Homo sapiens: one gene and its partners. The protein of the gene in region 4 purifies or fractionates together with the protein of the main gene of each other region. This does not show direct contact. Each region holds a gene or a part of one and is shown on either strand. Other genes may lie near its edges. The genes, in order: HP1BP3, NAA16, PNO1, USP26, ZNF292, IPO9 and CSRP2.

What was found.
Region 1: the proteins of USP26 (region 4) and HP1BP3 purify together in Homo sapiens (affinity purification with mass spectrometry, with the first as the bait; one large-scale study listed by BioGRID). This does not show direct contact.
Region 2: the proteins of USP26 (region 4) and NAA16 purify together in Homo sapiens (affinity purification with mass spectrometry, with the first as the bait; one large-scale study listed by BioGRID). This does not show direct contact.
Region 3: the proteins of USP26 (region 4) and PNO1 purify together in Homo sapiens (affinity purification with mass spectrometry, with the first as the bait; one large-scale study listed by BioGRID). This does not show direct contact.
Region 5: the proteins of USP26 (region 4) and ZNF292 purify together in Homo sapiens (affinity purification with mass spectrometry, with the first as the bait; one large-scale study listed by BioGRID). This does not show direct contact.
Region 6: the proteins of USP26 (region 4) and IPO9 purify together in Homo sapiens (affinity purification with mass spectrometry, with the first as the bait; one large-scale study listed by BioGRID). This does not show direct contact.
Region 7: the proteins of USP26 (region 4) and CSRP2 purify together in Homo sapiens (affinity purification with mass spectrometry, with the first as the bait; one large-scale study listed by BioGRID). This does not show direct contact.

Annotation. Positions count from the first base shown.
Region 1 is NC_000001.11:20,784,508-20,788,658, forward strand, and holds the start of HP1BP3 (heterochromatin protein 1-binding protein 3), read right to left. Parts: upstream 2,801-4,151; 5' UTR 2,688-2,800; intron 2,166-2,687; exon of another isoform or gene 1,679-2,165; intron 1-1,678. UniProt on the Homo sapiens protein: Component of heterochromatin that maintains heterochromatin integrity during G1/S progression and regulates the duration of G1 phase to critically influence cell proliferative capacity.
Region 2 is NC_000013.11:41,366,767-41,370,266, forward strand, and holds part of NAA16 (N-alpha-acetyltransferase 16, NatA auxiliary subunit), read left to right. Parts: intron 1-672; coding exon 673-886; intron 887-2,323; coding exon 2,324-2,517; intron 2,518-3,500. UniProt on the Homo sapiens protein: Auxillary subunit of the N-terminal acetyltransferase A (NatA) complex which displays alpha (N-terminal) acetyltransferase activity.
Region 3 is NC_000002.12:68,164,388-68,167,887, forward strand, and holds part of PNO1 (RNA-binding protein PNO1), read left to right. Parts: intron 1-550; coding exon of another isoform or gene 551-572; exon of another isoform or gene 573-1,487; intron 1,488-3,500. UniProt on the Homo sapiens protein: Part of the small subunit (SSU) processome, first precursor of the small eukaryotic ribosomal subunit.
Region 4 is NC_000023.11:133,094,310-133,098,270, reverse strand, and holds the start of USP26 (ubiquitin carboxyl-terminal hydrolase 26), read left to right. Parts: upstream 1-1,161; 5' UTR 1,162-1,241; intron 1,242-3,961. UniProt on the Homo sapiens protein: Deubiquitinase regulating several biological processes through the deubiquitination of components of these processes.
Region 5 is NC_000006.12:87,263,565-87,266,443, reverse strand, and holds the end of ZNF292 (zinc finger protein 292), read right to left. Parts: 3' UTR 501-2,879; downstream 1-500. UniProt on the Homo sapiens protein: May be involved in transcriptional regulation.
Region 6 is NC_000001.11:201,832,157-201,835,656, reverse strand, and holds part of IPO9 (importin-9), read right to left. Parts: intron 1-3,500. UniProt on the Homo sapiens protein: Nuclear transport receptor that mediates nuclear import of proteins, such as histones, proteasome and actin. Serves as receptor for nuclear localization signals (NLS) in cargo substrates.
Region 7 is NC_000012.12:76,876,220-76,880,468, reverse strand, and holds the start of CSRP2 (cysteine and glycine-rich protein 2), read left to right. Parts: upstream 1-1,449; 5' UTR 1,450-1,530; coding exon of another isoform or gene 1,531-1,531; exon of another isoform or gene 1,532-1,799; intron 1,800-1,818; exon of another isoform or gene 1,819-2,110; intron 2,111-2,186; exon of another isoform or gene 2,187-2,301; intron 2,302-4,249.

The DNA of each region.
Region 1 (4,151 bases), on a different chromosome or scaffold from region 4:
TTGCTCTGTCGCCCAGGCTGGAGTGCGGTGGCGCGATCTCGGCTCACTGCAACCTCCCCTCCCGGTTCACGCCATTCTCCTGCCTCAGCCTCCTGAGTAGCTGGGACTACAGGCGTCCGCCACGACACCCAGCTAATTTTTTGTATTTTCAGTAGAGACGGGGTTTCACCGTGTTAGCCAGGATGGTCTCGATCTCCTGACCTCGTGATCCGCCCACCTCAGCCTCCCAAAGGGCTGGGATTACAGGCGTGAGCCACCGTGCCCGGCCTATTCATGTTTTTCATCTTGGTTTTTATATGTGCCAAAAATAAACAGTCTGAGTTTACTTGTGGTTTACATGGTCCTCTTATGAACATCAGCTTGCTTAAACTTAATGTTACAACAATAACAAATATTTGCTTTTTGTCAAGGGAAATGCTTAAATTAAATCGGTTGTTTATTTTGAGACAGAGTCTCAGTCTGGAGTACAGTGGCATGACCAGGGATCACTGTAGCCTCGACCTCCTGGGCTCAAGCGATCTCCTCCCACCTCAGCCACCTGAGTAGCTGGGACTTCAGGTATGCGCCACCACAGCCGGATAGTTTTTGTATTTTCTGTAGAGACAGGGTTGCCCAAGCTGGTCTCTAACTCCTGGATTCAAGCGATCCTCCTCTTTGGCCTCCCAAAGTGTTAGGATTACAGGTGTGAGCCACCATGCACGGCTTTAAATTATTTGAATGCAAGCAATAAAAAAAAGTATTGTAGAAATAAAAAGCCCCAAATTTCAGTTTTAATTTATTTCCTCTACATTAAGAGAAGGCTGTAGAAAAGTGAGGAGTTTAACAACGTATTTCAGTTTACTGATATCCTTGATAATATGCATTTTAGGGAAAGCACTATAATTTCACATTTTACCATAAAATATATGTAATACATGTCATTAGTGATGCGCTGAACACCTCACATTGTTCCCAATCTTAAGTCATTCACTACACTCAGATTTAACGAGTCATGTCACAAAAAGCATGCCTGTAATTTGACTGCTGACACCACTTGTTTTTCATTTTCAAATGTAAGTTATATAAGCAAACATATACTCAGTGTCTGTTTTGGGCATAGATACTAAGGACACTACAGTGTCTCATCTCAATAAAATCACAATCTAACTGGGTAAGGAGTTAAAACTTTCATCCGGAAATGAAGAGTTCAGTATACGTTCTCCACTAACTTCCAGCCCTACAATCTTCCAAGCAAGCTTAAAAACAAAGCCAAAACCAACCAACCCAGCAAACTTTAAAATGTTACTTCTATTTTGAAACAAATTACACTAAACTTTTGAGAAGAGCAATGAAAAATCAAAAAGCTAACAAGTTTTTTGCCTATGTCAGGTTAAACAAAATTAGAGCACCTTTCAAAAATGACACTAGTCACCTCTAATTTCACTCTAAGACAAGACAGCGTGCTCAAAAAGCCCCAGGCGATTTTTAGACGTTATTTCGAATTGGATTCTCACTTTTTAATGCAATGCAAAGTCAGGAAGCACAATAAACAACAGAGAGAACGTGCACGCGGATGCGGCAGCACAGTTCACCCGGTCCGGTCTCCGTACGGGAGACAACTCTTTCTCAAAAAGGTTAAGTGGCTGTCCCCGGTCACAGCTGTTAATGCAGTACCAACCCTCAGATCTGGGGCTCTCACCTCACCACTCCTGCCTCCATCTCTTACAAACGCTCAGATGGGCGACTGTAACTTTCTGACGACCTACCGAGGCACCGCTCTCATTCAAACCCCACCGCCTAAGGTGGCGAGTAACCAGTTCTACGTTTCCCACCGGGGGAGCGAGACTCAAGGCCGCCGTCGCGGAGCAGCAAAGCGACAGCCGACAGCCCCGCCCGCAGAAGGCCGCGGGAAGGACGGCAAGAGCAGCGGAGACAAAGCAGCGAGGCGAGGTAGCTACAGGCCACAGCGGCGAACGCGCACGGCGGGGGAGAGCGCGGGCCGCCAGCGAGGCGGGGAAAGCTCGGACCGCGGACACCGACGGATGAGGCTGGGGCTCGGCGCGGTGACAGTTCGGGGCTCACGCTCGGCAGGGACACCGCGGCGCCCGCCCCGGCGACGGAAGCAGCGGCGGAACGCGAGCCTCGGCGCTCCGCACACTCACCACTGGGAGCTCCGTAATGGCGGCGGCGGGGGCGGAGAACCCGGGGGGCGGGCCCGCCGCAGCCAGTCACCGCCGCCGGCATCTTTCGAACCGGCTCCGAAAACCGCTGAGGGAGTGGGGTGAGGGGAGGGCGCGGGCGGACGCCGGACCGCGGCGGGCCTCGGAGCATGCGCAGCCCTCAGCCAATCGGGGCGGGCAGAGGACGCCGACGCAGGCGCGCTGGGACGCAGGGTCGCACGGCCAGAGAAGAGCTCCCCCTCCTCCCCCAAATCCAAACAAAACAAGGGCGGGAGCGCGCGCGCCGGAGGGCCCCTGAGGAGGAGTCCACCAAAAGGGCAGGGGGCTAGGTCGCAGGAGAGAGGAAGGGAGCGGGGCGGAGCGGCCGGGTAAGGCAGACAAAAGGCGCCACCTCCGGGGACCCGGGCGCCCCGCCCCCTCCTCTCTGGGAGCGGCGTCGGCGCCCCGGGCGAGCGGCCTCCGCCACTCGCCTTCGGGGCCCAGCGAGCCCGCGCCCACTCCCCGGCCGCCTGTTCGGTCCTGCGTTACCTCTGCGTTCGGCCGGTCCTGGCGCCCGCGTCCCGCACGGCCTCTCGGCGCCGCTCCCGCCGCCGCTAGTCGCCTCCGCCACCGCTGTCCTCCAGTCCCAGCCGCCGAGCTCTGCCGCCCCGCCCCCCTACCCGCGGCCCCGCGCGCGCCCCCGCCGGCCCCGCCTCCCGCGCGTGGGGTGCGAGGGGGCGCGCGGGGACGGGCGGACGCCGGCGGAGCGCGGGGCGTCGGCGCGCGTTCCCGGCGCTGCGTGGTGGCGCCCATTGCCTTGGCGTGGCGGGGCGGTGTCGGTTTCCTCGGAGGGGCGCCGCTTTCCCCCGCTAACCTTCGCTTTCTGTGCTCTCCAGGGCAGTCCCTTCTCTTAACTGGGTTTCCGCTTCTGCCACTCGTCCGCCTTTAGCGGGGCTAGCCTTTCCCGCTTCTCAGTTTAGGCGCAGCTCAAGAGCAAACCTTTTTTTGAAGACCGTAGAATTGGAAAACTAGAGAGCGGAGAATTCACTGCCTCGCACTCGCTCCCATTAAGTCTCCAGACGGTACAGGGCAGAGTAGTGACTCGGGACTCAGAACTGAAAAGTTGAAACGGGCTTTCCGGGCTCCCTAATCCTCACATGCAGGGAGAGTTCCCCAGAATGAAAACCCTGAGATTAGAAGACGGGATTCCCTTTGAATTGTCATATTGCGTTGCTATCAGCGTACTTAAACAACGTACATACGAAGGAAAAGTACAGCTCTTCAAAGCTAGTTTGGAAAGATTGTTTTTAAAGTTTCAGGTGTTGGGGGACAGGGGAGGGACTGGGTAATAAATGTAAGGAAATACCAGTAGAATTGTCCCAAGCTTACAGTAGATGACCAGTACTCAAACGTATGTGCCAAGGTTTATAAAGACTTACGACACCATTTAAGCACTCACCCAGTCGTCTGGCCCTGCCATTAGCATAATTGTCTCACCAGCTTTCCCTGCCACAGCCACCCCACTCTATCAGTTCAAATTTCACAGCCAGCATAAAAAATTCTTTACGAGGTGTGCGTTATCATTCATATCCTGATGGCATTACCAGTCTTTAGTACTCTGGTGTCATATTCCAGCTGTTCAGAAGGGGTTTTGCTCTTTTATGCCATTCTTCATTCTGCTCACTCCCTTCGTTGTTAACGTTTCTGTTGTCTTCCTTTTCAAAGACTTCCATTTTTATGTATTCGTACATTTAAAACATCCTACCGTTCTTCTTTTACCCTAAAATGTCTTTAGACCCATCTCATGTAAGAAGCAGACTCAGATGAGAGCAAACTGGGAGATGTTTCCTCCTCCACAGATTTTTGCTTAAAACAACAACAACAAAACTTAGGCCGAGCATGGTGGTTTACGCCTGTAGTCCCTGCACTTTGGGAGGCCGAGGTGGGAGGATTGCATGAGGCTTGGGGCCAGGAGTTCGAGGCCAGCCAGGGCAACATAATTAGACCCCATCT
Region 2 (3,500 bases), on a different chromosome or scaffold from region 4:
TGAACTTTAAAATACATTATTTGATCCTTTAACAACCTTAAGAAATTGGCTGTATGGATTTCTTTATTCTTAACTTAGATTAAATAATTGTCTAGGAAATTAAAAGGCTTATTCAGGGTCGCATCCCTAATAAGAAGCTTATCTCTTGAGTGGGCAAATACTGTGCTTACTGAATGTCTGCTATGTATTAGGCCCTGTGGCAGGCGGTGGGTAAGGATTGCCCTTGAAAATGGTAGAGTTGAGTAGAGCAGTCAGATTTGTAAATATTTAGTGTGAACCTACACATATTTAGTCTTCATTCAGAGCTCTGTTTAACTGTGCCATGCTGGTTTTTAGGGAATATGGAGGAAGAGTATTTCATTAAAACTAAAATATTAATATATACTAACTTTCAGGTTTAAAAAATAACCTGATCTTTTGACTTATATAGAAGTTGAGTATCATCACAAAACATGATTTGTAGGGAATGGGCATGGTTTGTAGGAAGAGAAAGTTCAAGTTGAATGCCAAAAATAATTCATATCCTTTATAGTGTAAAACATTGGAGAGGGCAGCTAAGTGAAAATTGTGACTGTTTAAATTGTTTTTTGGGCTTTTTACAATTTTTTTTTTCTAAAGGTAGACATTATTGACATAAATGTAAAGGTTAATTTTGTGATTTTTGTTTTTAAGCATTTTTTTGAGATAACTGATGACCAATTCGACTTCCATACATACTGCATGAGAAAGATGACCCTTCGTGCCTATGTTGACCTTTTGAGATTAGAAGATATACTCAGAAGACATGCCTTTTATTTCAAGGCTGCTAGATCAGCGATTGAAATATACTTGAAATTGTATGATAATCCCTTAACCAATGAAAGCAAACAACAAGAAATAAACTCAGGTAACTGAATAGGAACTTAAAAGATTTTAAAAGGACACTAAATTTCAGAATGCCATTAGCGTAAACAATACCTAGAAAAATATTAATATATTGTCTGTTGGAGTTGAAGACAAACATTAGATAACTCATATGCCAAAAAACAAAAATGTTGCAGAGAGAGTTAAAAAAAGTGGGATGATATTCTGTAGCTGATGGTTCTAAATTACTTTAATGGAACAACTTAGAATTTTTTTTATTTTTGTCTTCAGAAAGACCAATTTAAGAACTGGGTATGGTGGTTCACGCCTGTAATCACAGCATTTTGGGAGGCCAAGGCAGGCAGATCATTTGAGGCCAGGAGTTCAAGACCAGTCTGGGCAACATAGCATGACCCCTGTCGCTACAAAAATTTTAAAAAGACGAGTTTAGGAAACATAGAAATGTCTGTGGACTAGTTTTTTTCTTTCTTTTTTAAAAAATTGTAACTGAAAATAGCTTTGAGCTCCTTAGGAAAAAATATATAATCTTAAAATTTCTAGTTCCTACTTTATTAAAAATAAGAATATCAGTGAGAATATCTGTACAGTTTTTTATTCACTAGAATGTTAATATCTAGGAATATTTGAGAAATAGTTAGCATGAAATGAGCCTAGGTAACTATCTCAGATATTCCTAGGTAGCTGTTCATTTCTAATATTTATATAGTATTTAGAGATCACAGGTGTTTATATGTATTATCTCACTTATTCTTGAAAGACTTGATACTGAGAAGGACAAAGTGATTTGCCTGGAGTCATATATTGTGTAGGAGGCAGAACTGGGCTACTATTGGTCAATTTTAGTTAATGCAACATTTACTGGCTGTCCTTTGTGTGCCCAATTTTGTTCTAGTCACTGGGGATACACTTTCTAAAAGCTTTTATATGGGTTGCCTCTGCATCCCTCCTTGCCCAGACAAAAAACAGAAAAAAAAAGTATACAGCTGGCCCTCCATTTTTGTGGGTTCCACATGGGTGGAACAAATCATAAATATGTTTTTTTAAATTGCATCTGTACTGAACATGTCCAGACTTTTTTTCTTGTCATTATTAGTATTTCCTGAACAATGCAGTGTAACAACTATTTACATAGCATTTACATTATTTTAGGCATACCTATAGACCATAATATAATTTATGAAAAAGTGAAGTCATTATATGCAACTTAAAGCAAAAGGAAGGTGAAAGATTTAAAGCTGATCTAATTAAAAGTATACAGGAGGATGTACATAGGTTGTATGGAAATACTGTGTCATTTTATATCACAGGCTTGAGTATCAGTGGACTTTGTGGGGGTGGGGGTCATGAACCAATCCCCCACTGATACCAAGGGACAACCATACTAACAGTATGTATTACAGAAGAATATGAAGAAAATGCAAACATTGGCTCAGAATTTTGTTCATTTGGATATTTATAGAAAACTTGTCAGCCAAAGAATTGAAGAAAATGCTTAGCAAGCAGAGAAGAGCTCAGAAAAAGGCTAAACTAGAAGAAGAAAGAAAGCATGCAGAAAGAGAACGTCAACAGAAAAATCAAAAGAAAAAAAGAGATGAAGAAGAAGAAGAAGCCAGTGGCCTTAAGGAAGAACTTATACCTGAAAAATTAGAAAGGGTGAGATGGGTTTTACTATCTTTGTTATTTGGTAAAATTTATGCTATTTGGTTCCGTTCTGACAGTTAACATGATTTATTTAAATCTGTAAGAAGCCATTTGAAATATTTCAAGGTTTTTATAATAGCCGTCAATTATCTTTGAGTGACAGTATACAAATTTTGGCTAATGCAAGTTATACATAGAATTGCAATTGTGGTAGGCAGAGTAATGGCCCTGCAAAGGTGTCTGTGTTCTGGTCCCCCCAGCCTGTGAATATGTAACCTTACATGGCAAGGGAGAATTAAGGTGGGAGATGGAATTTATGGTTGTAATGAATTGACCTCAAGATAGATTAGCCTGGATTGTCCATGTGGTCCTAATATCGTCAAAAGGGGCCTTAAAAGTTGAGGATGCCAGCAGCAGAGGTCAGAATGATGCAATGTGAGGAGGACTCAACCTGCTGTTGCTGGCTTTGAAGATGGAAGGAGGGTGCCCCAAGCTAAGGAGTGTGGGCAGTCTAGAGAGGCTGAAAAAGGCATTGAACGGATTCCCCCTTCGAATCTCCAAAGGAAATGCAGTCCTGCTGACACCTTGATTGTAAGCCCAGTGAGACTGTGTTGGGCTTTTAACCTATAAGAACTATAACATAATAAGTGTGTTGTTTTAAGTCAATAAATATTTGGTAATTTGTTACAGCAGCAATACAATTGTCCATTACATATGGAATCATTTTACCTTATATGTCTTACTAGAAATGTTGTAGCTACAAAGAGATAGCACCTCCAGGATTTTCTCAAGTGTTAATAGTTGTTTTGGGATCAGATTTAAGGAAATATTTAGTTTTCTGGTTTATTCACTGTAAGTCTAGTACAGTTGGCCTTTGAACAACATAGGTTTGAATTTTGAGGGTCCAGCAAAGGATGGTTTGATAATTTTAGAAAGATGTTTGGGTTAAAAAATGTCCAGATAACAGAAGAATTAACTTCTCACCAAGAGCTGGC
Region 3 (3,500 bases), on a different chromosome or scaffold from region 4:
GGCCGAAGTGGGAGGATCACCTGAGCCCAGAAGGTTGAAGCTGCAGGGAACCACGATCGTGCCACTGTACTCAACCCTGGGCGACAGAGTGAGACTCTAACAAAATAAAAATAAAAATACCACATATAGTCTGGGCGCAGTGGATCATGCCCATAATCCCAGCACTTTGGGAGGCCAAGGTGGGAGGAAGGAATGCTTGAGCCCTGAAGTTCAAGACCAGCCTGGGCAACATAGGGATCTCCATCTCTACAAAAAATATAAAAATTAGGTGTGATTGTGCACACCTGTAGCCCTAGCTGCTCAGGAGGCTCAGGTGGGAGGATTGCTTGAACCAAGGATGTCAAGACCACAGTGAACCATGATGGCACCACTGCACTCTAGCCTGGGTGACAGAGTGAAACCTTGTATCCAAAAAATAAAAAATTAATTAATTTAAAATCCATATACAGATGCTCCTCACCGTATGGTGGGGTTACGTCCAGATAAACCTGTTGTAAATTAATGATCTCATAAGTCAGAAGTTCATTTGATACTTCATTTGATATCATAGGATACTTCTCTTTGAAAACTGAAGAGCATTCCGAGTGTGTACCACTTTGGCGCAATTATAAAGTCAAAAAAAAATCTTCGGTTAAATCATCAAGTCATGGACTGGCTGAGTAGCCCTGAAAGCTTTCATGAATTTAGAAATCCATGGCCCGGCACGGTGGCTCACACCTGTAATCCCAGCACTTTGGGAGGCCGAGGCGGGCGGATCACGAGGTCAGGAGATCGAGACCATCCCGGCTAAAACGGTGAAACCCTGTCTCTACTAAAAATACAAAAAATTAGCCGGGCGTAGTGGCGGGCGCCTGTAGTCCCAGCTACTTGGGAGGCTGAGGCAGGAGAATGGCGTGAACCCGGGAGGCGGAGCTTGCAGTGAGCCGAGATCCCGCCACTGCACTCCAGCCTGGGCGACAGAGCGAGACTCCGTCTCAAAAAAAAAAAAAAAACAACAAAAAAAAAAAAACTAGCTGGGTGTGGTGGCACATGCCTGTTATCCCAGTTACTTGGGAGACTGAGGCAGGAGAATTGCTTGAACCTGGGAGGCGGAGACTGCAGTGAGTCAAGATTGCACCACTGCATTCCAGCCTGGGCGACAGAGTGAGACTCCATCTCAAAAAAAAAAAAAAAAAAAACGGCTGGGCATGGTGCCTCACACCTGTAATTTCAGCACTTTGGGAGGCTAAGGCGGGTGGATCACCTGAGGTTAGGAATTCGAAACCAGCCTGGGCGACAGTGAGACTCTGTCTCAAAAAAAAAAAGAATTTAGAAATCTAAAACTAACTGATTTGCCAATGAAATTATATAGTCTGTCATTAAGTTTATTACTGGTAAATTTATAAGTATATTTGTAAGTGTTAACCTAAAATTTACTAGTTAAACCAACGTTTTAGAAGTTTATTGTGGCATAATTTACATACAATAAAATTCTATTGTTTTAAGTATCCCGTTCAATGAGTTTTTGGCAAATGTATATTGTAGTCCCATGACACTCATACAGTTCTCTTACCCTGAAAGTTCCCTCGTGCATCTTTATGGTCAGTTGCCTGCCCCCACCCTTTTCTGGGACAACCATTGCTCTTGTTTCTGTCACTCTTATTTTGCATTTTCTAGAAATTCATATAAATGGAAATACACAGTATGTAGGCTTTGGTGTATGACTTCTCTTAATTAGCATGTTATTTTGGATTTCTCCATTTTGTTGGGTGTATCAGTAGTTCCTTTTTATTGGCAAGTACTATTTCATTGCACAGGTATACTGTTGACCCTTGAATATTGCAGGGATTAGGGATGCTGAACCCCTAACATGGTTGAAAATCCATGTATGTATGACTTGACTCTCCCAAAACTTAACTACTCCTGCTTTTGGCTGGAAGCTATACCAATAACAAACAGTTGATAAACACATATTTTGTATGTTATATGTATTATATACTGTACTCTTTCATAAAGTAAGCTAGAGAAAAAATGTTATTAAGAAAATTATAAGGAAGAGAAAATCTATCTACTCTTCATTAAGTGGAAGTGGGTTATCATAAAGGTCTTCATGGTGAATAAGCTAAGGAAGACGAGGAAGAGGGGTTAATCTTGCTGTCTCATGGGTGGCAGAGGAGGAAGATGTGGAAGGCGAGGCAGGAGAGGCAAGCATACTCTGGAACTTTACAGAAATACATTGTAATTTCTGACTTTTTTGCCCTTTCACTTCTCTAAAAATGTTTCTGTAGGGTACCAATCCTCTTCCACAGTTTTTAGTTTCAGTGCCCACGTCATAAAAGGGTCTATGTCATAAAAGACGTCAAAAGCATCTTGAATAATCAGAAACCTTCTGCCAAATTGTCTAATGTCACCTTGTTTTCTGACACTGCTGCTTCTACATCATCTTCCTCATCACCCGGCACTGCTTCAGAAGCACTCACCTCCATCAAGTCGTCTTCTGTTAATTCCTCTGGCATAGTGTCTGTTAGCTCTTGATTTCTCCGTGATCCATATCTTGAAACCCTTCACCCCTCACTTTTGGCCATATCCACAGTCTCTTTCATGATTTCTTGTTTGGCTCTGTCGTAAATCCTGTACTGTCATGCAAAACCTCTGGACATGGTTTTCTCCAGCAGGAATTTATAGCTGCAGGCATGAGGCTTTCACAGCTTTTTCCATAATAATGACAGTGTCTTCAATGGCATGGTCCTTCCAGACTTTTATGATGTTCTTTCCATCGAGTTCTCTTCCATAGCATTGACACTATTTTCCATAGAGTAGTGTGTGTAATGAACCTTAAAGGTCTTTATGACTACCTGTTCTGGAGGCTGAATTAGAGAGTGGGTGCAAGGAGACCACTTTGTTGCCTTTCGGTATTGAACTCATGGGGTTCTTGGGTGGCTGGGACATTGCTCAACATCAAAAGAGCTTTAAAAGGCATTCCTTACTGGCAAGATACTTCCTGACTTCAGGGAAAAAGCATCAATGGAATCAATCCAGAAAAAGAGCTCTCCTTGTGCAAGCCTTCTTGTACATCCAGAAGACAGGCCACTGGTGTTTACCTTTTCCCTTCAAGGATCGGGGTTAGCAGCTTTATAGATAACGGCAGTCCTGATCATAAACCTGACTGCATTTGCACAAAACAGTAAAGATAGCCTATCCTTTCCTGCATTAAATCCTGGTGTTTGCTTCTCTTCTTTACTAATAATTGCCCTTTGTGACATTTTTTTCCAGAACAGGACGTTTTTCATCTGCACAAAAAACCTGTTCAGGCAGATATTATTTCTCCTCAGTGATTTTCTTAATGGCATCTGGGAACTTGTCTGCTGCCCTTTGGTGAGCAGAAGCTGCTTCTCCTGTTACCCTGACATTTTTAAAGCCACCTCTTTCTAACATTATCGAAGCATCCTTTGCTGGCGTTAAGTTCTCCAGCTTTAGATCCTTCATTTTCCTTTTGCTGTAAGTTGTCATATAATGACTTA
Region 4 (3,961 bases):
AAGGTGCTGGGATTACAGGCGTGAGTCACCACGCCCAGCCCTACCAAGTTTACTTTCAACTGTAGTCTAAATTTATAATTCTCTGACCAGTCAGGAGACAGGTATGGGCTAGGTTATTTTTTTGCACTGGATTTTGCAGAATTTCTGCAACCTAACAAATGCAAACATCCCAGTACAAATCTGGGTCCTTCTCGCCACATCCAGCCCGGTGCTAACTGATGCCAGTGCTGACAGCACTCCCTTGCACCCCAATTCTAATGTTTTCCCATATTCCCCACCTGATAGCAGCAAGAGAGGGCCTGGTAAGAGAGGGAAAGGATCAGTGAATGCATCATGGAGGCGGCTGTGTTTGAGCTGGGACCTAATTGGTGGACAGAGATGGGGGGAAAGGAAATTCTAGTAGGAGGCTGATTACTCTTAAATAGTGGTCTACGACACAGACATTGGTGCTAGAGGGTCATGGATTCAAACGCTAGTATGGCCATTTCCTAGTTCTACTCGTGATCCCCTTCCTCAGTCCTCTTATCACCCCACATCCATTCTCCCAGTCGTATAAACTCTCTCCTAACTGCTTATGCTCACTTAGTTTAATGCCCATTCTGTTTAACTCACCTGCAATGGCGGCACCATCCCCAATTTAATGCCCTTACTTCCTATGCACAATTGTTAGGTGTACAGCTATTTAGGCTCATTTTTCACTGTAGATCCCCGTCCTGGCATCACGCCCGTTCCTTTTTCCCAAACGTAAATGCTGAGGGGTGGGTTTCAATTCCCTGCTACGAATTGAGTCTCATCCCAATGGTAGAAATGGCTGGGAAGATCTTTCCCGTACAAGGCAATAATATGCAAAAAATGTAAAAGCGGTTGGCGCGTTATTTGAATTCATTGCGGGAACCACGCAGAAAGTCTCGTGGGAGTTACTTTGTGATAGTTTTTTCCTTCCATTCCCCACAGTTCCTGCCACTGCACGCGCAACACCTCCAAGCAATAATCCTTCCCACCAATAAGGAGCAAAGGCCCGGGGTGTGGACGGACTTTCCTGTTATAGAGAAGGTGGGAGTAGACAGTATCCTGGTCAATTGTTTCAGTCACAACCAATCAGGATCTTTGAGGGTGGAGCCATACACTGGCAATAAAAGAAGCCTGCCCCTGTGGCGGGGCCCATTTTGTTTTCGATCGTTAAGTGGGCACGTGGTGGAGCGTTGGTGTGTCAGGGGTGTCGACTTCTTCCACAAACTATTGTAAGATCAATTTGCTTTTCATTTGTAATAGTTATTGAGAGTTAGATATTTGTAGTGTGCTTTCTATATGTGGCTATATGAAATGTAGTAGTATACTTTTTCTTTTCTTTTCGTTTTTCTGTTTTTGTTTTTTTTGAGACGGAGTCTCATTCTGTCATCCAGGCTGTAGTGCAGTGGCATGATCTCGGCCCATTGCAACCTCCGCCTCCTGGGTTTAAGCGATTCTCCTGCCTCATCCTCCTGAGTAACTGGGATTACAGGCGCCTGCCACGACGCCTGGCTAGTTTTTGTATTTTTAGTAGAGACAGAGATTCACCATATTTCTCAGGCTGAGCTCCAACACCTGACCTCAGGTGGTCCACCCGCCTCAGTGTCCCACACTGCTGGGATTACAGGCGTGAGTCACCACGCCTGGCCTCTCTTTCTGTTACTTTGGACCTGGAAAGAATCAGCTTCCCATTGGGAGGGATTGTGCACGGTATTAGGACAGTTAATGGCCATTAGCTGCTGCGATGTTGTTTGTATTTCTTTCTTTTAAAAATGTAATATTTGTGGTTATCTTTTGGAGTCGGTTCTTTCATCCACTCACTTTCAAATAAAAGAAAAGTTTTCTGGTGTTTAAAACTTGAAAATGTTGTCTGGTCAGTGCAGGAATTGTTCATTGACAACTTCAGATAGCCTCCTGTTGGTCATTCGCTATTTTGCATTTTTATACAGTATAGTTGTGAATTTAATTGTATTCCACGAAGAGTGCTTCTCATATTTTTCATTCATTTGCCTTTAAAAGTTTGGTCTTAATTGCAGTTGATGTTTTACAAACAATATGGATGCTCTGCCTCTCTAGCTGTGGTGGCTAGTGTTTGTAATCCCAGTGCTTTGGGAGGTGGGAAGGAGGCTTGAGTCCAGGAGTTAGAGACCAGCCTGAACAGCAGAGGGAGACCTCATTTCTACAAAAAAAAAAAAAAAAAAAAAAAAAAAAAAATTAGGCCGGGCGCCGTGGCTCATGCCTGTAATCCCAGCACTTTGGGAGGCTGAAGTGAGTGGATCTCCTGAGGTCAGGAGTTCGAGACTAGCCTGGTCAACACGGTGAAACCCCGTCTCTACTAAAAATATGAAAATCAGCCAGGCGTGGTGATATGTGCCTGTAATCCCATCTACTGGGGAGGCTGAGGCAAGAGAATCACTTGAAACCAGGAGGCGAAGGTTGCAGTGAGCCGAAATTGTGCCACTGCACTCTAGCCTGGGCGACACAGTGAGACTACATCTCAAAATAAATAAATAGCCAGATGTAGTCTCCCCGAGTAGTCTTGGCCACGTATGAGGACCTCTTTAGCCCAGGAGGACGAGGCTGAAGTGAGCTGCGTCTGTGCCACTGTACTGCAGCCTAGGCGACAGAGCGAGACCCTGTCTCTTAAAAAAATATTGTTGGCATTGGAAACTTCATAGGTTTCTTATGAAAGGTTTTGTACAAGTTTCAGTTTGCAGTAGAGGAAATTAACTGTCGATTGAGTGCATTTTATAACAGAACAGCCTATTTGGTATAATTTTATTTGTCCAAATTCTGGTCTTGTTTCCTCTTCATTAATTTCCTTATAAAATAAAAGTTTTGGAGTAATCTTGATTTACAAATGCACAATTTAATCATCTGGCTGTGTCCTTAATGTTTTGCACCAGTGACTGCACTTAAGTGTCTTATCATCGGCTGCCATTTAATGGAATTTGGAATTTTATTTTACAGAGGAATTCTGTGTTAGGTAGCATTTTATTCCATTAAATGTGGGTCCTAGTCCTTTTCATAAATTTTGTGTGAAGAAAGTTTTGTATTATCTTCAATTTACAAATAACGAAAAGAATTTTCTAATTGAAAGAATGTTTTGTGGCATTTTCTTTCTTTTCTTTTCTTTTCTTTCTTTCTTTCTTTTTTTTTTTTTTTTTTGACAAGAGTCTTGTTCTGTCGCCCAGGCTGGAGCGCAGTGGCACGATCCCAGCTCACTGCAACGTCTGCCTCCCAGGTTCAAGTGATTCTGTTGCCTCAGCCTCCCAAGTAGCTGGGATTACAGGTGCCCGCCCCTATGCCCAGCTAATTTTTCTATTTTTAGTAGAGACGGGGTTTCACCAAGTTGGCCAGACTGGTCTTGAACTCCTTACCTCAGGTGATCCACCCTCCTCGGCTTTCCAAAGTGCTGGGATTACAGGCGTGAGCCACTGTGCCCAGCCCGTTTGTGGTATTTTTAATGTAAAAATGCACACATTGCTAATTTGCCTGAGAGCTTGTTTTAGGACACTAAATTGTCACAAGTGCCAATCACCAGCCACTGCAGAAAGTTTTTTGGGATATCATATCCTGAAACAATTGTGTGTTGAGGTTCAATGTATTCAATTCTGCTCGAGTTTTTTGCATACGTTTCCTTTAAAAGACGGAGGTATTTCAGTGTGTAAATGAGGAAATTAACTGTAACGTCAAATGTTTACTTTCTGGCAGTGAACAGCCGTTGGAAGTCATGTTGCCTCATCTGAATTTTATTGTACAGTATAGTTGTGTGTTTAATATAATGGTATTTATACATTTTGGCATAGGTCCTCTTTCCAAGGTGTTCCTTCCCAGAAAAAAAAAAAAAAGGTTTCTATTTAAGAATAAGGAGGACAGAAGTTGTCTAGGGCCAGGTTAGGAGAGAAAATGGAAGTAGATCCTTCTAGATCCTTCTGGATCTTCTGCTCGC
Region 5 (2,879 bases), on a different chromosome or scaffold from region 4:
GATCTAGCTAGTTTCTAGGCTGAACAAGCTGAGGACAGGAGTAAGCTGATGAATAGTCAGCAAGTGGTAGTAATAAGGTAGAAGTATTCTTTTAGCAGAGATATCTTGAGCAGGTGAGCTACAAGTTTGTGGCCAGAAAAATAAATTGAATTCAAGATTTGGAAGTGATATGGGGTTTGATTGTGGCAAAGTCATTGAAGAACACAGGTATTATTATCATTTTCTTCATTGACTGGTAGTGTTGGAAGATATAGATTAAAGTAAGTATTTTTTAAAAAACTGTTGTAAAGAATGGGCATGTGAAACTTTATGATCTGGGTGTCTTTCCGATGAGGTGACATTTAAGCTGTGAACTGACGGGATATGGAGTCACCCATAGAAATAAGAGAAATAAGCATTCCAGATAGGCTTTGAAGTGGGGAAGGAAGGTTACTATGCGTTCAATGAAATGAGAAGAGTGGGAAATGGGAAGTAGGATAAGAATGTTTAAAGGCAGGGGCTTCTGGCAAGTATGACTGGATTTTAATCAACGTTTAATCACAATTACTTGAAATTCAATGAGCATTACTTGAATACCGGGTAATATTCAAAACATTAACAACCAATACAGCAAAGGAATCAACCCATTGGGATATATAAATTGATCAATCAGAATAATCACCATTTGCAAACAGCTGATACAATTGAATTGGTGTACACGTTGATTATCAGTCCTGGTTGAATAAATGCCATTTGAGATCAGCATTTCCCAAAGTGTGTTCTTTAGAATGCTAGTTCAGTGGGATATAACTAAGTATTAACATTAAAAGAAGAAAAATGTTCTCAGGGTCAATTAAGTCTGGAAAATTCCCTTTCAACTTTTTACATATTTACAGTAGAACTTTTGTCTTTAATATGCAAACATGCATTAAATTATTTAAGAGAGGCTGGGTGTGGTGGCTCATGCTTGTAATACCTGCACTTTGGGAGGTGGAGGTGGGTGATCACCTGAGGTCAGGAGTTCAAGACCAGCCTGGCCAACATGGTGAAACCGTCTCTACTAAAAATATAAAATCAGCCAGGTGTGGTGGTGTGCACCTACTTGGGTGGCTGAGGTAGGAGAATCACTTGAACCTGGGAGATGGAAGTTGCACTGAGCTGAGATTGTGCCAAAACTACAAAATTAGCTGGGTGTGATAGCATGCATCTGTAGTCCCAGCTACTGGGGAGGCTGAGGCAGGAGAATCACTTGAACTTGGGAGGCAGAAGTTGCAGTAAGCCGAGATCGTGCAACACTGCACTCCAGCCTGGGCAACAGAGCGAGACTCTGTCTCCAAAAAAAACAAAGAAAAAAAAAGAGAGAGAGAGAGAGAGAACTACAGCACACAATTTAGAAAACTTATTTCATCACAGCAATAACCTTCCACCTGCCTAGTATCTCACTACAATAAACATGCTGAAACAGGCTGCCTTAGACATTACTTTTTATTATCTCTCTTATCCATTAGTCTCTTCCCCAACTTCGTTAGCCTTTCTTCTGGCTCCCATCATTTTTTGCCTGGACTATTTTAGGTCCCCCTAATTAATCTCCAACTTACTCAATTTATCCACTATACCATGACAATTATCTTTCTAAAACTGATACTGATTAAATTGTTCAATATACATGCATCCAATAACAATTTTCAAAAACCAAAATAAAGACTTAATACAGCATACAAGAACACTCCTGATCCCACCACCCATCTGCTTCTTCAGCTTCACCTTCTTCAACTTCCTATCTTTCCAAGTGGCCCACTGGCAATACCGCAATTACGCTCTACCCCCAAGTCTGGAATTCCCTTGTCCCCCTGAACCAATGAGCATTCATTCATCTTTCAAAACTCATATTTTCTACAAAGACTTTCCCAACTACCTACCTCCTTTTCCAGAAAAATAGGGCATTCTTTCTGATGTCCCTAGGTATAGTATTATTGTACTTTCATATTATCTACAGCAACTGTGACTGCTCACTTGATAAAAATTTGCCTTAAAAATATGTCTAGCCCTTTAAAATAATAATGTACCTATGTTAAATTTAACACCGTTGAAAATTTCAAAAACTGTTACATTTCACTTAAGGTGATGTATTTTGAATAATACAATTCTGACCTGTAATATGCAAACTTTGCGGGTTCAGAAGAGGAAAAACTCCTACTTTTTAGTGATGAAACTTTAGCAAATTTAGGCTGTAGAAGATATCTCAAGACAATAGGCTGGGGAAAAGTATACCATGAAAAAAATATATTTTATGATTTTTTAATACTTAGACATTACATTCCGTATCAAAATTTACCAACATGCTATTCTATAAATTCATGTCTTTTTACCATAGTTTGATTTTTTTTGTTTCATGCTAAAAAGCCCACTCTCATAATTACCTTTAGTATACATTACCTGGAATATAAAAATTTCATTAAATGTTGGCAAACTCTTCCCCATGACATGTAAAACAATTAGAAATGTCTAGTTATAAATTTTCTTAAGCTAATGAGCAAAAGAAAAGCCCCAATACATTGGCATTTTCACTTAACAGTGGCTCATAGTTACAATGATCAGAAATAAACCTACTTGCTACTGTGCTATATAGGGCAGTTTTGCCAAGTGCCCACCTTTAAGAGCTAGGTCAATTTCTAAGAAAACTGTATGGAAACATTCAGTTGTTAACAAAAATTTAATATTAAAATTACTCAGTTATTTAAATTATTGTTAATTTAGGAAAAAGAAAACCCATGTATTAATCACCCATAAAATAACTTTTATTTTAATAAATAACAGTGGGCTCACCAAAGGGCAGGGATTTTAACGTGTCAGGTTTTATGCTTATTGGTAGTAAGTCTTAAACAGGTGAAATGAACTAT
Region 6 (3,500 bases), on a different chromosome or scaffold from region 4:
TGAGCCAAAGGGCAACACTGCCAAGAGGGCTATATGAAGTTGTTTTCTAAAGCTATTTTTGTTAGGAAATTTAATTTCTCTAGTTCCCTTTCCCATGGTGAAATAAGGACAGTTCATTCTGTTAATCTGGGTTTTCACCCTGACTCTAGATTCTCCTTAATTATACCTTTATTCCTATCCAAAATGGCATCCTTTGACTTCCTAAGAAATCCTCTGCCCTCTTTCATTCTCTAGTCTCATTCTCTTTTAGTCTTTTGCTTCCCTCTCGTTATCCTTGCTCCCCTTTCTCTCTTATCACCCCATATGGCAAAAACATTATCTATCTAAAACTTGGTTTAGAAGGGAAAACCCAAAGGAGAGCATGGAGGATAAAGGATCACTTAAGAAATACATGCTATTGGTCTGAAGGGTCTCCTAGAGAGACAAGACTTGGCAGTACTTTGACAGTCAACTAATAAGAATTGTGAACAGGGATTGTTGGAGAAGGATGCGGTTTTGAGTAGACCCCCTGGACAAGCCCCCTATTTCTCATGGGAGTTGGTAAGCACCACAAAACCACAGCTGAAAGGAAAAAGAAAACTCCACCACTGGCCTTTTTCCGAGCGTGGCCGCCTTCCGCTCGGCTCAGTGCCCGCCACATGCCCAGGAGTGCGTCTGGATCCTTGAGGGGCGCCCTTCGCAGGTGGACAGTGCTTACGCTATACTGCAAAAGAGCCAGAAAAGTGCCCATGAGAACCAGAAAGCAAACTTCCAGCCAGCAGGATCATCTCTCTAGGCATCTAAGATGGGGAAATCAATACAGGTATCTCGGCAGCATCTGAATGCCAGGAAAGGTGAGGGAGAGATAATTTCCCCCCTCCCCTGTTCAACATAATGGTGGTAGAAGGGAAGAAAAATGTATTCTCTGTGACTTATCTACTGGGAACTAGACAAGGCCAAATGATAGGGGAAATGTCATCATTTGTAATAGGCAAAAAAGAAATAAGCAAAGAAGAAAATGTCCTAGGGTCTAAATCTAGTTATGTAAGAAAGTCTGTGCATGCTGGCACGAAGAATTAAAGCTTCTGAATGAAAGCAACCCATTCCACCACTTGGATAATGCCATTCTTAGAGGAAAAGTAGAGAAAGAAGTAGAAAAAGAGGGAAAGAACTTCATTTTAAGATATAAAAAAATAAAGCACGAATACACCAAAAATAAAAGGCTGACATTCTCAAAAGATGGTAATTCTCATGATCTCACCGTAAGTCAGACAAAAACAAAAGAAAAAGAGTTGATGAAGCTGAGTACAGAATATGAGACTTTGACGTAAGAGATCTTCGGTGGTTCATAACCTCTCCAGTCTTTTTAACTACTATGTTTGTAAAGTGCTTAATATGAACCTGCCTATTAAACAAAACAGAATTAGAAAGCATGCTTTAGACTCTTAGCAGTGCAACAAAAAAAAAAAAGAAAAGAAAAGTTTTTTTACTCTAACGAATAAAAAAACTTAAAAAAAATTTTTTTTACCCTATTTAGGTAGAAGTAAATTTCCTACAAACCTGATCAAACTCAAAATCTCAATCCTCCTAAGAAAAATGAAAGGGGCCAGGTGTGGTTGCTCATGCCTATAATCTCAGCACTTTAGGAGGATCACTTGAGGGCAGGAGTTCAAGGCCAGCCTGGTCAACACAGCAAGACCCCATCTCCAGAAAAAAACTAAAAAAATCAGCCAAGTATGGGCATGTGCTTGTAGTCACAGCCACTTGGGAGGCTGAGGTTGGGAGGACTGCGTAAGCCCAGGAGTTAGAAGCTGCAGTAAGCTATGATCACACCACTGCACTCTAGCCTGGGTGACAGAGCAAAACTCTGTATCTTAAAAAAAAGAAAGAAAGAAAAATGAAAGGTTAACAATTATCTGCAGAATACTGTACACCATAATAACTTCCAAACTTTCAAGCAATGTTCTTCTCAATTCAGGATGGGAGTGCTATCTGATGAAGGTGGTTACTGGCATCATCTCCTTATCTAATTAGCCCTGTTAAATAGACTTTAAATATTCAGAGAGGTTTGCTGGGTTTCTTCCAGATTCCAAGTGACTAGCAAAAATAGCAAGCACAGGGGCTCAAGAAAATCATTCCAGCCAGGCGCAGTGGCTCACGCCTGTAATCCTAGCACTTTGGGAGGGCAAGGTGGGTGGATCACCTGAGGTCAGGAGTTCGAGACCAGCCTGGCTAACATGGTGAAACTCCATCTCTACTAAAAATACAAAAATTAGCCTGGCGTGTTGGTACGCGCCTGTAATCCCAGCTACTTGGGAGGCCTAGGCATGAGAATCACTTGAATCTAGGAGGCGGATGTTGCAGTGAGCCGAGATCATGCCAATGCACTCCAGCCTGGGTGACAGAGCGAGACTCTGTCTCAAAAAATAAAATTAAAAAAAAAAAAAAAATCATTCCAGGACACCAGGCTGATGAAGTAACCTATCTTATCCTTTTCAGATTGACACGCTACATGAATCAAATGGATCTCTCACATACACACACTTCCTTGGCTTAAGAGAACAGGTGCCCATTCTGGAAAATGTGATAATTAATTATAGGCAATTTATTTATTTATCAGAAAATATCAGCTGGTACACTAAATGATCAGGACTACTCTAGGCTCCAGCAATCTTTATTTTCTAAGATAACTGCTTCTTAAAATCTCATCTATAGTACAATTTGGTCACAGCATGTCAACTTCTCTTGCCTGTCCTTTTAACAGGGAGTTGACAATTGACCTGTGTCCTTTCCCCATAAATTAGATATTCTTCCATTTAATCTTCAAGACAAGGGATCATCACCTGGTAGCCAAGGAAGGTAACAAATGTTTTTGGCAAAGGGAACGGACCAGTTAATCTTAAAGACCATGTGGGATCAGTCTCCTATGTGATGGACTAATAAACAGCTCACAAAGACAGTGTGGTTATTTGAGAGGACAGAGGGAGGACTAGATCTGGTTGTCACCTGATCCTGGGCCCCATGGAACCAAAAAATGATCAAAAGATTACCAGAACACAAATAATAATAGACACCAAATCCCAGATTTCTCATTAACTTCAAGTTTTAAGAGTGTTTCCGGCCTGGCCGGTTGGCTCATGCCTGTAATCTCAGCATTTTGGGAGGCTGAGGTGGGCAGACTGCTTGAGCTCAGGAGTTCAAGATCAGCCTGGGCAACATGGCTAAACTCCGCCTCTGCTAAAAATACAAAAATTAGCCAGGCATGGTGGTGCATGCCTGTAATCCCAACTACTTGGGAGGCTGAGGCACGAGAATTGCTTGAACCTGGGAGGTGGAGGTTGCAGTGAGCTGAGATCATGCCACTGCACTCCAGCCTGGGCCCTGGACCACAGAGTGAGACTCGGTCTCAAAAAAAAAAAAAGTGTTTCCTAGAATCAGAAAACAAGGTTCCTTCTACCAGGGTAAAACTAAAATGTGGGCTGGGTGCAGTGGCTCACGGCTGTAATCCCAGCACTTTGGGA
Region 7 (4,249 bases), on a different chromosome or scaffold from region 4:
TTGGCCCGTGAGTCAAGTCACTTACACTAGCTGATATCACTGAAATAAGGATTGCCCATATTTAGAAAAGCTCACAGCAGGCAAGAATGCTTTCCAGACTCCTGCCACAGTATCAGGAGATGTCAATCACCACTATGTGTTTTTGGACAGTACTTGGTGGACAGAGAACAAGGCAGCTATAATGAGTTTATCCTGGATTGGCCCCAGCATATAAAATAAAACAATAATAATATTATAAGTCGGTTCTGTACGTTGTCATGCGGATATGTGCTCCCTGCCCTCTCCCCAAGAGGGCATTTGGCAATGTCCAGAGACTTTTTGATTGTCACAACGTCGGGGGCAGGTTGCAACTGGCATCTAGTGGGTGGAGGCCTCCTACAATGCACAGGACAGCCCCCTACAATAAAGAATTATCCAGCCCAAGATGTCAATGGTGTGGAGGATGAGAAACTCTGGACCAGAGGAGGCAATAGCATTTATGGCATGAGGGGGTTTTGGTCACTGACTTTTTTGAACTCCCCACTCCGCAAGTATCAGTTCTCCGGGATCATTGCTTCTGGCAGGAGAGGTCATGAGGAGGCCTAGAATATGAACCAGATAGAGATTGCATTGTTTATTTTCCTTTTCATCTAAAACAATAAATCATCCTGTAGCTTAGGCATTAGGTCCCTTCGGATGTCACGGTATCCTTGTGCTTTTCTGACATCAACACATATAAATACAGGGCCTGTGGCGCCCGGGGTTTCTGCCTGGGTTTAGGTTTCTTCCCCCTCAGCATCGCGTGCTGTGCCCTGGTGGAGGGGAAGAGCGAAACACTTTGGGAATGGGGCGTTTTCGTAACGTCATTTATTTAGTCTAGATGAATTTTGCTCTTTAAGAATAAGAAGTTGTGGATTCCCAGAAGCTGGAAATCGGACGAGAGAATATGCGTTAACTAGGGAAGTTAATCACGTTGAGTTTACTGACAAGGACAAGGCAAGGGGGAGGTGGCGGAAAGCCCCGTTTGGCTGACTTTCTACTGCTGGAGCCTCCCGGCCCATGACTGTCTCCGCGAAGAGGGGGATCGGCGCTCGCGGTGGACAGGTCCGACGCAGGGCGGCGGGGGCCACTTTCCAGCGGGACCGTCCCGCCGCCGGGCCTCCCTGGAGGGGAAGGAAGTCCCTCTCCAAGTCCCAGTGGCTTTTGGAACTGCCGGGTCCCTTTGGGAGGGAGCGGTCCCGGGACGTGGGAAGATGCCGGGCGGGCGGGAAGCTGCAGGAAGAGGCGGGCCTCCTGCCTTTTGTCTCCTGGTGGCTAGCCCGGAGCGGGCAGAGGGCAGCCCGCCCGCTACACGCCCCAGCCCGGCAAGCGGCTCCGGGAATCCGGCGGGCGGGGCTGGGAGGAGGGCGGGGCGGACACAGGCCGCGCCCACCGAGCGCTCTTTAAAAGGCACCGGCGCGCGCTTCGCCTGGGATCTCGGACTCCCTGGACCCTCCCTCCAGCCCAGCCTCGCTAGCTCCGCCTGCGGTACGTGCTCCCGCCTCCGACTCAAGTGAGTAGGGGCGGTGGGGCGGTTCCGCGGCGCCGCCAACCCCGGGGCGGGAGTTGCAGGGGGTTTCCACCGCCTCCCGGGGTCGTGCTGTCGCCCGGCCGGCGCGCCCCGGTCTCCTCCGACATCCCCATCCCGGTCCGCATTTGTGCCCCTGCCAGCCTTCTCATCCCTGCGCCCCAGATTTTCTCTCTCTTATCCCCCAAACACACCTGCCCTTGTCCCCGAGGCCGTCCAGGCCATGCCCTGGGATCCCAGGCCCGCGGGGCAGGTAAATAATCTTATATGACCTTTAATTTCTCCATACTGGTTTCTCTGGGAGAGAGGCGGGTTGTGAGTTTCGCGTTTCTGCTAATCCGCCTCTTAGCAGCCGTCGGTCCCCTCGTCCAGCGGCAGGCTCTCTCTGGGGTGGGGGTCGGAGTCTCAGGGCCCCCTCTGCCCGGAGTGTGGTGAGCACCGAGGGCGACCTTACTGGGTTCTGTCCCCTAGGGGTGGAATGGGGCTTCTACATCCCCCCGAGCCCAGGGTACTGCTCCTGCCGCCGTACCGGGCTCCTGGCATCCCCATTGTTTGGTGGTGTCTGCCCACCCAGCACCGAACCCCTCTATGTTGAAGGAACAGCAGGGAATGTCAATCACTTACTCCTAGCTTTTTCCAGAACTTTCTACGATTCAGGTACAAAGAAGAATGCAAGAATGCTTGGTTGTGAAATTATGCGACAGGTCCTGCGAATCACATTCTGGGTTCTCCAGAGCCAGATTCAGGAGCTCCACGTAGGCACCCCCTGGGGGCGGGGGCGGGCTTTCTAAACCGGCGGATCCCTTTCCCCCTTCTAAGCCAGGACATTTGTTAAACGATTTTTACTTAAATGGCTACCCAAAATGTTTAACCTGTTTTATTTGCAGTCTGCAAACCAAGCACATTTTCCCTTTATAAATGCTTTTCGGTACAGAATTTTTTTTGGGGGGTGGGGGGGTGGGGCGGGGGCAGTTAGTAATTTTTTAACCCGGGCAGCGAAAATCGTCGTATTTAGTTCTTGACTTTTCCAATTAACCTGTTTTAAAACTCTCCTCATAAAATGCCAAGAATTCAAATAGGACAGCCACAAAGTTGGCTGTACTTTGACTCACGTTTTTCAAGAAAGAATTGGGTGATAGATTTTGAAAGGGAGAATCTAACATAGTTTCAGAACTGCATGCCAAGCTACAAAGAATGTTGTGAAGTACTAAGTGGTCTCCCCCAGTACTCCTGGGGTCATCGCTCTCGTCCATTGTCACTGATACTTTGTCAGTATTTCTCTGGGTCCTTTCTCCTCTGCATTGTAGTTTTCTTTGCTCTTTTGGTTCTGTGTTACCTTTGAGACCAGACCTGCATCACATGAGTCTTTGAAACTCACAGTGCTTGCTTGGGTACCTTGGACAATTGACTGAAAGAAGGAGCGAATAAGGTTGTGATTATAGGGAACAAAAATATAATTTGACTCACACAATAGGTATTTGTTTGCAGATTTGATCTAAAGTTCGTATCATAAATTTTTAATGCATTTCTCCGAATGTATTTAACAAATATTGATTGATACTGGTATAGGCTAAGTACTGTGCTGAAAGCAGTACTTGCTGGAGGCCTGTCCTGATGAAATTGCAAAATCACTTGGATTTGGGGGAGATTGAATTTTATCCTAAAACAGCAAGAATGTTGGTGTAGAGTAGAGGACAGCAATAAATGAGGAGTTTTAGAAGCCTGAGTCCAGAGGCAACTCTGACACTAAATTGCTATAGTGATCTGGGTCTCTAGGTTTTCTTCTTTGTCAAAAGTGAGGTGAATCAAATGAACCCCAAAAGGGAGCCCCCTATGGGAGAGGAGGCATGGCTGAAAGGGGGAGGAACGAAGCCAGGCAGGACCAAATTCACACCTCAACTCCAGTACCCATTGGTTTGATGCCCTTGGGCAAATTAACTTTACTCTTTGGCCTCAATACTTCATCATGTAAAATGGGTGTAGTGGCACATGCCTTGCAGGGTTGTCATAAGGCCTGTTGATACTTGTACAAAGCCCAGCCCAGCCTGGGAGTAGTTCCTTGTAATTAGACAAAGTTGTGCACTTGGTTGAATATATGTGGGAAAAGGCTATCAGTGAAAGTCTGTTTCAGGAGAGAGCTGGCTCACACCTGAAGAGCGTTTCCTAGACCTTGCCTGGAGGCCAGCTTTCTTCTCTGTGCAGATGTTCACAGGTTTCCTCAAGGCACCTTACCCTGACTGCCAGCATGCCATCCCTTGGGTTCTGTTGGGTGGGGATCCCCAGACACCTCTGGATCTTTGATTACCTAGGTGGGGTTTCTGACTTTTTATATCATGGCACTCCTGTGAGGCCTCCAGACCCCTTCTCAAAATGACGTAACATAAAGTATGTGGTACCAAGTTCCCCAACCCCCAGAATTAAAAGGAATTGTGGCCTTTGGGTTAAGAATCCTGAATTAAGGGAATATTTCTCAGTCTGGATAGTGGAGAAGCTGGGCACAATTTCTTTTTTTTATATTTTTTCCTTTTCAAATTCCTTTTTACCACAGGCACAATTTCTGATTGTTAAAAATTTTATTGTTGTAAGTCACAGAGGAAGAACTAATAGAAGTACATGGTGAATGATCTGGAAAGGATATCAGGTTCCTTGTTTTTTTGTTTACAATCTTATTGTGCCAACAATACTATTGTCTTCGACTAATAA